Regions from separate parts of the Homo sapiens genome. Here region 2 is linked to region 1. The links come from fine-mapping of genetic effects on gene expression. A gene starts in region 1. The other region holds a variant in brackets. All regions are shown on one strand. Distances are between the middles of the regions.

The links. PIP is the estimated chance that this variant, and not a neighbour inherited with it, causes the effect. A credible set is the group of variants that fine-mapping cannot tell apart.
Region 2: its variant is the best candidate, but not a certain one, in a credible set for the expression of PVALB in lung (TOPMed, PIP 0.85).

The regions. Positions count from the first base shown.
Region 1 is chr22:36,813,814-36,819,181 of GRCh38, reverse strand. It overlaps PVALB (parvalbumin), which reads left to right and starts at 2,147. Exons shown (of 4, transcript NM_001315532.2): 1 at 2,147-2,237; 2 at 3,947-4,079. The coding sequence starts at 2,177.
Region 2 is chr22:36,836,063-36,841,430 of GRCh38, reverse strand. No RefSeq gene overlaps it. Among named protein-coding and RNA genes, the nearest start is that of PVALB, 22 kb to the right of the region's middle. The variant C/G (reference allele first, on the strand shown) is at 2,112.

The sequences.
Region 1 (5,368 bases):
GCCTTAGAACGAGAGGGCTGGAGTCAGACATCTGTGGACTCTGGTGATGCCATCAGAGAGGACCCAGAGGGCAGAGGAGGACTACCCAGGGCTGATGGGCTGACCTAATGACATTGATGCTCTGGCTGGGAGGGCTCAGTCCCGGAGGGGGTGTCAAGTTGATAGGAGAACTCAGCAGCAGGGAGAGATGGAGGAAGGAGATGGAAGAAGAGTGGGCCCCTGTTGAGGCTGCAGCCTTTGCCACAGGGTAGCTGCTTAGGGGCTCACCAGGAGCCAGTGTGTGGCTGAGATGTATGGGACCTGATAGAGCTGGGTCCCAGGCACCAGGGAGGATCACCCAGAGAGTCACTGAACTCCACACGAGTGAGTCCAGGGGTGTACCCTGCTCTGCTATTGCTTTACCATGTGTCCTTAGACCATTCACGGACTCTGTGCCTCCGTTTCTCCACTGGTATAGCTGAAGCGTCCTTCAGCTGGGGAAATCCATTCTCCAACTAGGCTCCTGGAGTGAGCTGAGCCTGGGAGTTGAAATGATAGCATAGGAGCCTGGCATATCTGAGTCAGCAGCCCAGCTGGGGACAAGGTGCAGAGGTGACGGCAGTAGCAGCAGGGTCCAGGGCAGCTGAGGGGTCCTGGGAAGTCCTGGAGCTGAGAGGCATCAGGTCAGGAGCTGCATCCTTGGTGCCTTGGAAGCCATCTGGCGGGCTGTGGCTTGAAGGAGCTGACTCACAGGGAGGGGGCAGCTGGAGCCAGCAGAGGTATCCTAAGGTTTCCAGGAAGGGCAGCCATCCAGGGCTGAGCTGCAGGAGACAATGTTGACAGCGATGTCAGGGAACTTGAGTTACTGGGCAGCTGGACAGCTGCTCTCCCTGGTCCCCACCACCCAGGGCCACCACAGCCCAAGGCCCTGCCTACCTGCCAATACCTTAAGTTGCAGTCCCCAGGTCCCACTACATGGGACCACTGACGTCATCAACACATCAGAAGGAGACAGAAGCCCAGAGAAGGTCACAACCCAAGGTCACACTGGGACTTAGTGCAGCCCAGGATCTAGAACCCAGGCCTCCTGACTCCCTGTCCAGCGCTCACACACTCTAGAAGCAGCTGGTTGCAGCTTGAAACCTTGGGAACCATGGGGAAGAACACAACGGGTCTCTGGCTGCATACAGATAGGCACCGTGACATTTTTCCAGAGGTGAAGTTCAGACCCCTACACCTGCTTAGGTTGTCTAGAAAGTGTGGTCTGAAGGTGCTACCCTTCTTCCAAACACATATGGGGCTTTCTGGGAGGGAGCATAGCAATTCCAAGCGGACTCTCCCACCCTACTCTGCCCAAAAAAGGTTTATAGGAGTAGGGGGAGTCTGGACCCATGATGCCAGGACCCAGGAGACCAGGAAAGCAAGTAGTTAGTAGAGATCTGAGAAGTGTTCTTCGAAAAATCAAGCCAGCAAAAAAATAAAAAATAAAAGTAAAACATCAAATCAGGTTTTAGAATATGCATCCCTGGCCAGATGTGGGATGGGGCACCCGAAGTGGGCCCCAGCAGCTCCTGCCTGTCCCTGTCCCTGTCCCTGCCACCTCCTCCCTGCGTCGGGTGGGTCAGGTTTCAGGACCTCAGCGCTCAGATTTTGCAGCATAAATTTGCATCCAGGACAGACCAGAGCAGAGGCTGAGGTAGGAGTGGAGAGAGAAAGGGAGCAGGGCCTAGGAGGTCCTGAGGTGCAGGCTGGCCGCTGAAGGTTCAGGATCTTCCCCCACGCGGCAGGACATCCGCCAAGGTTCCCAGATCTGAGACGGCGCACCTCCTGCGTGTCCTTGACGGCAGGTGGACTTTCCAGACCCAGCTGGTGACGCCAGTGCCCCCTAAATCCCAGAGGTGGCCCCTTCCCTCGTGCCCTGGCCGCAGCCCCTGGGATCCCGCGGACCCCTGGCCTGGCGGTGCAGGAGTGGTAGCAGGTCCGCGCGCCTTCTTGCCGGCGGCCGGCGCTGCTCAGCGGCGCGGCTGGACTGAGCCGCTCCCGCTGCGCTCAGAGTCCGGGCCCCTGGCGCCATGCCAGGCCCGGCGGGCGTGCGCCCGGCGCGCAGCACTGCAGCGCTGGTCATATGAGCAGAAATGATGAGAAAAGCACTTTTTAATCTTTTCGCACTTGCTCTGCCCGCTCAAACAGTTGCAGGATGTCGATGACAGACTTGCTGAACGCTGAGGACATCAAGAAGGCGGTGGGAGCCTTTAGCGGTGAGCAAGCGCGCTCCCCTCCCCATCCCTCTCCCCTCGTCCACCGCCCGCGCCCCTGCACTCCGCCGGCCCCGCAGCCGGCGGATCCTCCCCAGCGCGCTTCTGCCCACACTTCCCGCTGGGCGCCGGCGAGGTCGGGGCGGGGGCGTCCTTGGCAGTTCCCAAACTCTGTCCGGGCGAGGCTTGGCGCGGGGAGCGGGCGGGGAAGAGGGCGCCCCGCCTAAGTTACAGAAACTTGAGGGTGCTGAAGGCCCGGTGGCTGGGAGGACTCAGGGTCCGGGACCAAGGGCGAAGACCAGGGTCGGAGGAGAGACCTCCAGGGTCCTTGTACGAGCTCTCTGGACGTCCTCTTTAAGGCACTTAGAGGGGACTGCAGGGGGCATCCTCCTCTCCAAGAGACCCCTTTCCTGGACCCTCATTCTGGACAGGACTTTTCCCGCCAGGCGGTAGCCTTTGTTGGCCCCCTGACTGTCCTAGTTCCTTTACTGAGATTCAGCAACGGACCTGCGGGCGAGGTGACCTTCTGGAGCCGGCGCACAGCTCTGCCTAAGCCCGCACGGGGCATCCTCAGTGCCTCAAACCTCCAGCCTCCTTAGGCGGGCAGGGGAGGGGAACTGGCAGTCTCACCTCTCCCAGCTGCCCGGGACTTCAGCGCTAAGCTGCCCGCCTTCCTCCTCCCCTGTCCTCCAGATGGGGAAATCAGGGAACTGTCTTGGAGAGGACAAGACATTTGCCCAAGGTCACCTAGCTGGGCAGAAGGGGTATTAGAACTGGGTTGCCCAGCCTAGTGTCGGAGGTGGACAGGGCAACTTTCCTTGTCTCTAGCCCTGTGCTGAGGGGAAGAGAACATGACTTCAACAGCCATTCCCTACACACACACACACACACACACACACACAAAATACATGATCTAACATTGTACCCTTCCCCAGGTGTTCTAAAACAGGACCCCAAGATACAGAAAATTGCAGGTAGAAAAGGACCCCCATTTCCTTTCTGCTTTGCACCCCCTCCCCTGGGCACAAGAACCTCTCTGGGAAGCCACCCTCCCAGGGTCCTGGGATAACCCTCTCCCTTCACCTCAAGCCCATGTGGGAAGAAACTTAACTGGGTGTTTCTCGGGAGCCTCCTAACACCCCCTTCCCACTGCCTCCGAAGTGGATTTCTGCGCAGAGCCAGGACTTCCGGGTTTGCCCCTCCTCCTCCCACTGTATGACCTTGAGGGAAACCTGTCCTTTCTATGTCAATTTTCTGGCAACAAAGTCTGTGGCCAAGAAAGAAGGTCAACCCTCCTCCCCCTAACCCCAGGACCATGTTCATGCCCCCTTCAATTCCCCAGCCCACTCCCAACCAGCTGGCACTCAAAAGTCTTCCTGGGCACAAGGTTCTCAGAAGAACAAAAGCCTTTGGTTCTTAGGTGCTGCTCCCATCATCAGCAATGGGTGCAGTGGAGGTGGGGCGTGGGGGCGGGCTTGAGAGCCAGGGAGGTCTGGGTTTGAGCACACCTCTTCCACTCCCAGCCTTGTGACCTTGGACAGGTTATCCTCCCTTGCCCGGGCTCCCTCAGCCCTCCAATGGAGGTGGGTACCTCTCATTCCCCATGACTGGCATGTGGGAATCCATCAACAAATGCCTTGATGCCCCCCATTCTCCCAGGCTTCCCTACCAGCCTTTCTGGTCCTTGTTTGACCCTGCTCTTCCCCCCACAGCTACCGACTCCTTCGACCACAAAAAGTTCTTCCAAATGGTCGGCCTGAAGAAAAAGAGTGCGGATGATGTGAAGAAGGTGTTTCACATGCTGGACAAGGACAAAAGTGGCTTCATCGAGGAGGATGAGCTGGGGTAAGCGGAGGCCTGCAGGGGCTGCCCAGCCCACGGCTGCACGAGAGGGAGTGGGGGCTGGGACTCTAGCTTCCAAGTGTCCATCAGACCTGCCTTTCACTCTGCCTGCTTCACAGAAAGTAACCGTGCGTGAAGGCAGGGCTCCGACCCAGGGCACCAGGGGAGAAGGCTTCCTGGTGCTATTGCTTCGGAAGAGTAAAACCCTCAGCTGAAAGTGCAACTAACTAGGTTAAATGATAGCCACTTAATATTGCTAATGGAATGTTGCTACTTAATAATTTAATGCAAATGAAGAGGCAGTTTTCTTGCTGCCTAACACCATAGGCAGGGCAGAAAGCATTCACTTGAGTATTTCATTGATTTTCATTTGTCTAAAAGACACTTTCCACCTTCCTGCAGCCCCCAGCCCTCTGGTACTAGTGTGGCTGGTGCAATTTCTAGGCAAGCCAGGGATGCAGAACCACCTCTGAGAGTCCAGGGGTCCTTGGAGAAAAGCAGAGAAGGAGAAGGCTGTGGCTAGGAAAATGCATGCCTCCATCTGCAAAAGCATCTCCCACCATAATTCCCTCAGCCACCCGGCCATGTCTACTGACTCAGGTTGCCTTATGTCACTTTCTGGCCAAGAAAGCCTTGAGTTTTGTCAAAAAGAGAAGCGGGGGGTGGGTGTAGGGAGAGGCCTTTCAAGTAGGGACTTCCCCACCCATCCTGTCTCTCCCCTAAACCATCTCACAAGGGTACCTTCTGTCTAGAATCTTCACGTTCTACCCACTTACATCCAACATGCATGCACACTTATGCACACACACACACACACACACACACACACACACACACTCACAGAGGCTGACTTCCCCCTGTCCTCCAGGTATCACCTTCACCAGGAAGCCTCCCCTCTCCTCCCCTCACCGCAGGTGGGCAGATACAGCTTCTGAGTGCCCTCCTCCACGGCCCATCACACTGTGTGGTCTCTCTCGGAGCCCGTGACCTCCTTATTTTTTCCAGTGCCTTCCGAAGATCACCACTGTGACCCCACTTTCCAGCATACGCCAGACACAGAAATGACACTTAGTGAATACTTGTTGGATAAATTAACGAATGTAGGTGCCCTCCCTGAAGTGAGGACAACCCTTCACTGAGGACAGCCTGTCCTTTCCTAAATACTCACCCACGAAAGCACAGCCACCGAGCAGGCTACCTGGCCCAGAGCATCCGTGTGCGTGACTGCTGCTCGCTGCCTGTCCCAGCCATCCCTTTCCCCATACAGAAACCAGACCACCCTCCATCCAGCG
Region 2 (5,368 bases), 22 kb before region 1:
GAAATGAACATTCATTTGGGAGACTATTCATACATTTATTCATATAATAAAGTCATATAATACATTAAAAATAAAAGAATATTTGGAGGCTTACCTCCTAGTGGTGGAATTGCTGGAACAAAGGGCATGTGCAGCTTTTTCTTTTGTTTTTTTTTTTTTAGATGGAGTCTTGCTCTTTCACCTAGGCTGGACTGTGGGTGCAGTGGTGTTAGCTCACTGCAACCTCGGCCTCCCAGGTTCAAGCAATTCTCCTGCCTCAGCCTCCCAAGTAGCTGGGATTACAGGCACCTGCTACTATGCCCGGCTAATTTTTGAATTTTTAGTACAGATGGGGTTTCGCCATGTTGGCCAGGCTGGTCTTGAACTCCTGACCTCAAGGGATCCACCCACCTTGGCCTCCCAAAGTGCTCGGATTACAGGCGTGAGCCACCATGCCCAGCCACATGTGCATTTTTAATTTGGATGGAAATCTCAAAATTTCCCTCCTAAAATAGAAATTTACATTTTCTTAATTCATTGCCATCACTGAATACAACTGTACTTAAACATTTTTGACCATCTGATAAGTTAAAAAAGTCTCTGATTTTGGTTTGTATTTCTCTGATGGCAGAGGAGGCTGAGTATATTTTCATACATTTATTGGCCTTTTGTATTTTGCATTTGTATTATTGGCCTCCTGTCTGTGCCTTAGGACCCTCCTTTCTATTGGACTGTTCATCTTTTTCTTATTGATTATGAGCTATTTGTAAATCAACAGCATTGGTCTTTTTTCTAGCACTTGTCTGAAAGTATTATTTGGCCATTTTGTTGTTTGCTTTGAACTTGGTCCATGGCATTTTTTTTTAACTCTCACACAAGTTTTAATTTGCTACAGTAATGTTTGTCAATCTATTTGTTTATGGTTTCTGGGCAGACTCATGTCTTCAGAGCTGTCCCTATCCTTGCCAGCAGGTTGAAGGAATTTCCTGGGTGGCTAGGTGACATGGCAGCCACTGGATGTGTCCCCAGGCTCGCCCTCCGCCACCTCCATGTGGAGATGCCGCCCCTCAGAAGATTCAGCAAACACAGCCCCTTGGCCTGCTCCAAGAAGGTGGCTGCCCCGCCTTTCACAGCCAAATTCAGGATGCACCTGGCTTTCGTTTTCCCCTGACATCCAGCTCCTTTTAAGGAGCTATGCATCTTATACGTTTCTTAATCCCCCAACTAAATTTACCAGCTGTTGCTCACAGCCAAGACATCAGCTAAATTAAACTTTGGAGTGGCAAACACGGTGTATCAGATGCACTTCAGTGAGCCATGGTGGGAGCAGCCACGCCCCATCTGTCCTGAGGGCTGGGGGTCATGCTCTCCCTTCCCTCCTGGAATCTGGCCACAGCAGCATCTTCCTTCCCTCAGAAGCACTAGGGTCCCGCCACTGGAGGACCATGGGTGTATTGAGTTACTTCCACCATTGAAAAGATTCTTCCTTTCATTCTACAGGTATTTACTGAGGGCTCAATTATTGACAGGCACTGTTGTGGCAGTGGGGAAACACCTGAGGTTTTCTTTCTCGTGACAGAGAGAAATGAGGAACAAATGAATGTATAATCCACAGTTGAGCAGCAAGAGAGCCTCGGAGCAAGGGAAGCAGATAGAGAGAGAAGTGAGGGTAGGGCTGGGTGTCTCTTCGGACATGGTGGCCGGGGAAGGCCTCTGATGAGGTGACATTTGTGTAGAGACTGGAATGAGGTCCTAGACACAGCCATGTAGGTATCTGGGGGAGAAGGTTCCAAGGCATGTTCTAGAACCAGCAGGGCAACTAGCAGTGAAGGAGGAAGGGCTGGGTGGGAGGAGAGGTGGAGCGAGTTGTGGGAAGATGCTAGCATTCTCCTCCATGTGCTATGGGAAGTGAGTCAAGGTTTGAGAATTGGGAGAAGGGTGAGGTGTTTTCCATCTGAAGTGTGTTTGGTTTGCATTTACCCTCTATGACAGCTTAGGCACAGGAAAGGTCAGACGTGGATTGATGGTGAAAAAGAACTGATGGGCCGGGCGCAGTGGCTCATGCCTGTAATCCTAGCACTTTGAGAGGCCGAGGCAGGCGGATCCCCTGAGGTCAGGAGTTTGAGACCAGC[C/G]TGGCCAACGTGATGAAACCCCGTCTCTACCAAAAAAAAAAAAAAAAAGAAAGAAAAAAAATAGCAGGGCATGGTGGTGCATGCCTGTAGTCCCAGCTACTCAGGAGGCTGAGGCAGGAGAATAGCTTGAACCTGGGAGGCGGAGGTTGCAATGAGCCGAGATAGCACCACTGCACTCCAGCCTGTGATGGTGAGAATTCAGGCACCCCAGAGCAGCTCCTGGGGATCCTTTGAGTGAGCAGAGTGGGTATGCCCTATGCTGCTCCTGTCACATATTGGGTTTGTGGGTGAAACTCTCCCTGCTCTGGACACACTCACAAAGCAGGAAGGTCTACCTGGCTGGAACCTGCATCCCTGTTCTCTGGAGGGAGGAAGCCCTTCCCTCACACCTGGACACTCAGGCCCAGCAGGCTCTCTGCTTGGGTCCAGCTGTGACCCTGTGTCCTGCTGCAAGGCCCCAGCTGCTCAGCCTGGCCTCTGAGGACCTGCCGGATTGGCAGGGACTGGCCGTCCTGGGCAGACACCGCAGACTGGGGCTGGCCCTCAGTGCTGAAGGCTCCTGAGTTGAACTGGCCAGCACACCGAGGCTGGCCAAAAGTGCAGCCCAGCACCAGCTTGCGAGGAGGCTCCCAGGAGAAACAATTAGAAAGCATCACAAAACACCTGGCGGACAACAGGGGCTGGAGAAATGCCAGCTCCTGCTCCAGTCACACACAGGCTCAGGCAGCATAACAGCCGTGAGACACACACGCCACCCAGGTGGTGTTGAAGACAGGCAGGGACCACCTAGGTGGTGTTGAAGACAGGCAGGGACCACCCAGGTGGTGTTGAAGACAGGCAGGGACCAGCCCAGGAGGAGCCTGACCAGTTGCTAACTTGACAACCTTACTCACACACACACACACAGACACACACACACCACACACACACAGACACACACATACACACACACCACCCCCCCACACACACATCACACACACACATACACATACATACACCACACACACACACATACACAGACACACACACACACACTGCCCCCACACACTGCCCACACGCACATACAAACACACAGACATACACCACCCACACACACACACACACACACCACCCCCCCCCCCCACACACACACACCACACACACACAGAGTCGGCTCCATATGAATAGGCTCTGATATGGTTTGGCTGTGTCCCCATCCAAATCTCATCTTGAATTGCAGCTCCCATCATTCCCATGTGTTGTGTGAGAGACCAGTGAGAGATAATTGAATCATGGGGTCGCATCTTTCCCCTGCTATTCTCATGATAGTGAATAAGTCTCACGAGATCTGATGGTTTTGTAAAGGGGAGTTTCCCTGCACAAGTCCTCTTCTCTTGTCTGCCTCCATATGAGATGTGCCTTTCACCTTCTGACATGATTCTGAGGGCTCCCAGCCATGTGGAACTGTGAGTCCAATAAACCTCTTTCTTTTGTAAATTGTCCAGTCTCAGGTATGTCTTTATCAGCAGTGTGAAAATGGACTAATACAGGCCCCATCACTCATTTCTGCAGAGTAAGGGCCCTGAGGCCCAAATATCACTCCCAGGATTCCATTGTTAAGCCCCAATTCCACCATTAAATTCCACTTGGATCACAGATGCTGCACATACACAACCATGGCCAAGCCTCTCAATTTTATGTTTATTGAACATGCAGAACAGCAGACATCACTAAAAAGGCGTCTCAGTCATGCCCAGTGTTCCAGTAAATTGGAGGTAGAAATTATGCCAATCAGAAAAAATACTGCCTTTTTGGCAATCACCAAATCACTAAAGCTTTATGTGTGTAGTCGTACTATTGGAGCATCTGCAGATGTCACACATGTAAATGCAACATGGTGGTCAATTAGAAAATCAACTCAATGTTTCTTTTAACAGATTCCTTAAGCTTCCTACATAAATCTCACTCCAAATTAACATTAGCTTTCCAAAGAGAAAAGAGCATTCTGTGACCATTTCCACTGCAATTTAATTCTTTTTTAGTTCTCAGAATGATGGCAAGGCCATCAGGAGTGAGGATGATGGCTCAGCATTTTTGGGGCCTCCTGAATATATCAAAGGGAGAAGCTAGAGGTTAAAACAGCCCTCAAAAGAGGAGCCTGTCATGTCAAAGGAATGTGCAGGAAGGCTGAGCAGAATTAATTTCCTCCTGGTATAAAATATTCCTTCTGATCATAAATAAATCTGCTCAGAAGTAACTCCAGCAAACCACGAAACTGTTTCGAGGGGGCTAAGTGGCAAATCACAGCTTTGATGGTGACAAAAGAGAAAGAAAGTGAGATCACTAGATTCAACTTTGTCCTTTCCTTGCATTCTTCAAAAGCAAAATCCCCAGCCTCCCTCCTCATCTCCCCCCACCCAAGAACTGCACATTTCTCATGGCCTAATATGAACAAAACGGTTTATGACCAGATGAGCAGACAGCCAGATAACTCTAAGGAAGAAAGAGGGCAGAAAGGCTAAGATGAAGACACAGGGTGGAGAAACTCTGCCTGGCTCCAGCTGCCTCTCTCACGTCCACCATCCTGCATCTGGCAACAGGAGTTCCCCAGTTGTCACGGGGGATGCTCCAGCTGAAAGGGTCCAGGAGCTATAGGACAATAGGACGTTACAGGCCTCTTCTTCCCACCTTGGAGAGAAGGCTCAATGAAAGAATCTTGTTTGCCTTTTATTTTTCCATTGTGTATTTCTTTTTTTTTTTTTTTTTTTTTGAGACAGAGTCTCGCCCGGTCACCCAGGCTAGAGTGCAGTGGCACAATCTCGGCTCACTGCAACCTCCACCTCCTGGGTACAAGCGATTCTCCTGCCTCAGCCTCCCGAGTAGCTGGGATTACAGGCTCATGCCACCATGCCCAGCTAATTTTTGTATTTTTAGTACAGATGGGGTTTCACCATGTTGACCAGGCTGGTCTTGAACTCCTGACCTCAGATAATCTGCCCACTTCAGCGTCCCAAAGGGCTGGGATTACAGGGGTGATCCACAGTGCATTTCTTGAATGTATTTGGCCATGGAATGCTCTATTCATCAAACATCTGTAACGGTCTGTTATAATGCAATTATTTCCATCTCAGTTTTAGCTGAGGGTCTATGATAAGAGCTGCCACCTGTTCTCACATTCCAAAGTGAGATTCCAGTCCCTGAAACTTGCGTGATTGTTTGTTACTGCAGCACAACTGAGTCCATGCGGACTGATACAGATGAGCACCAGACACGAGCCT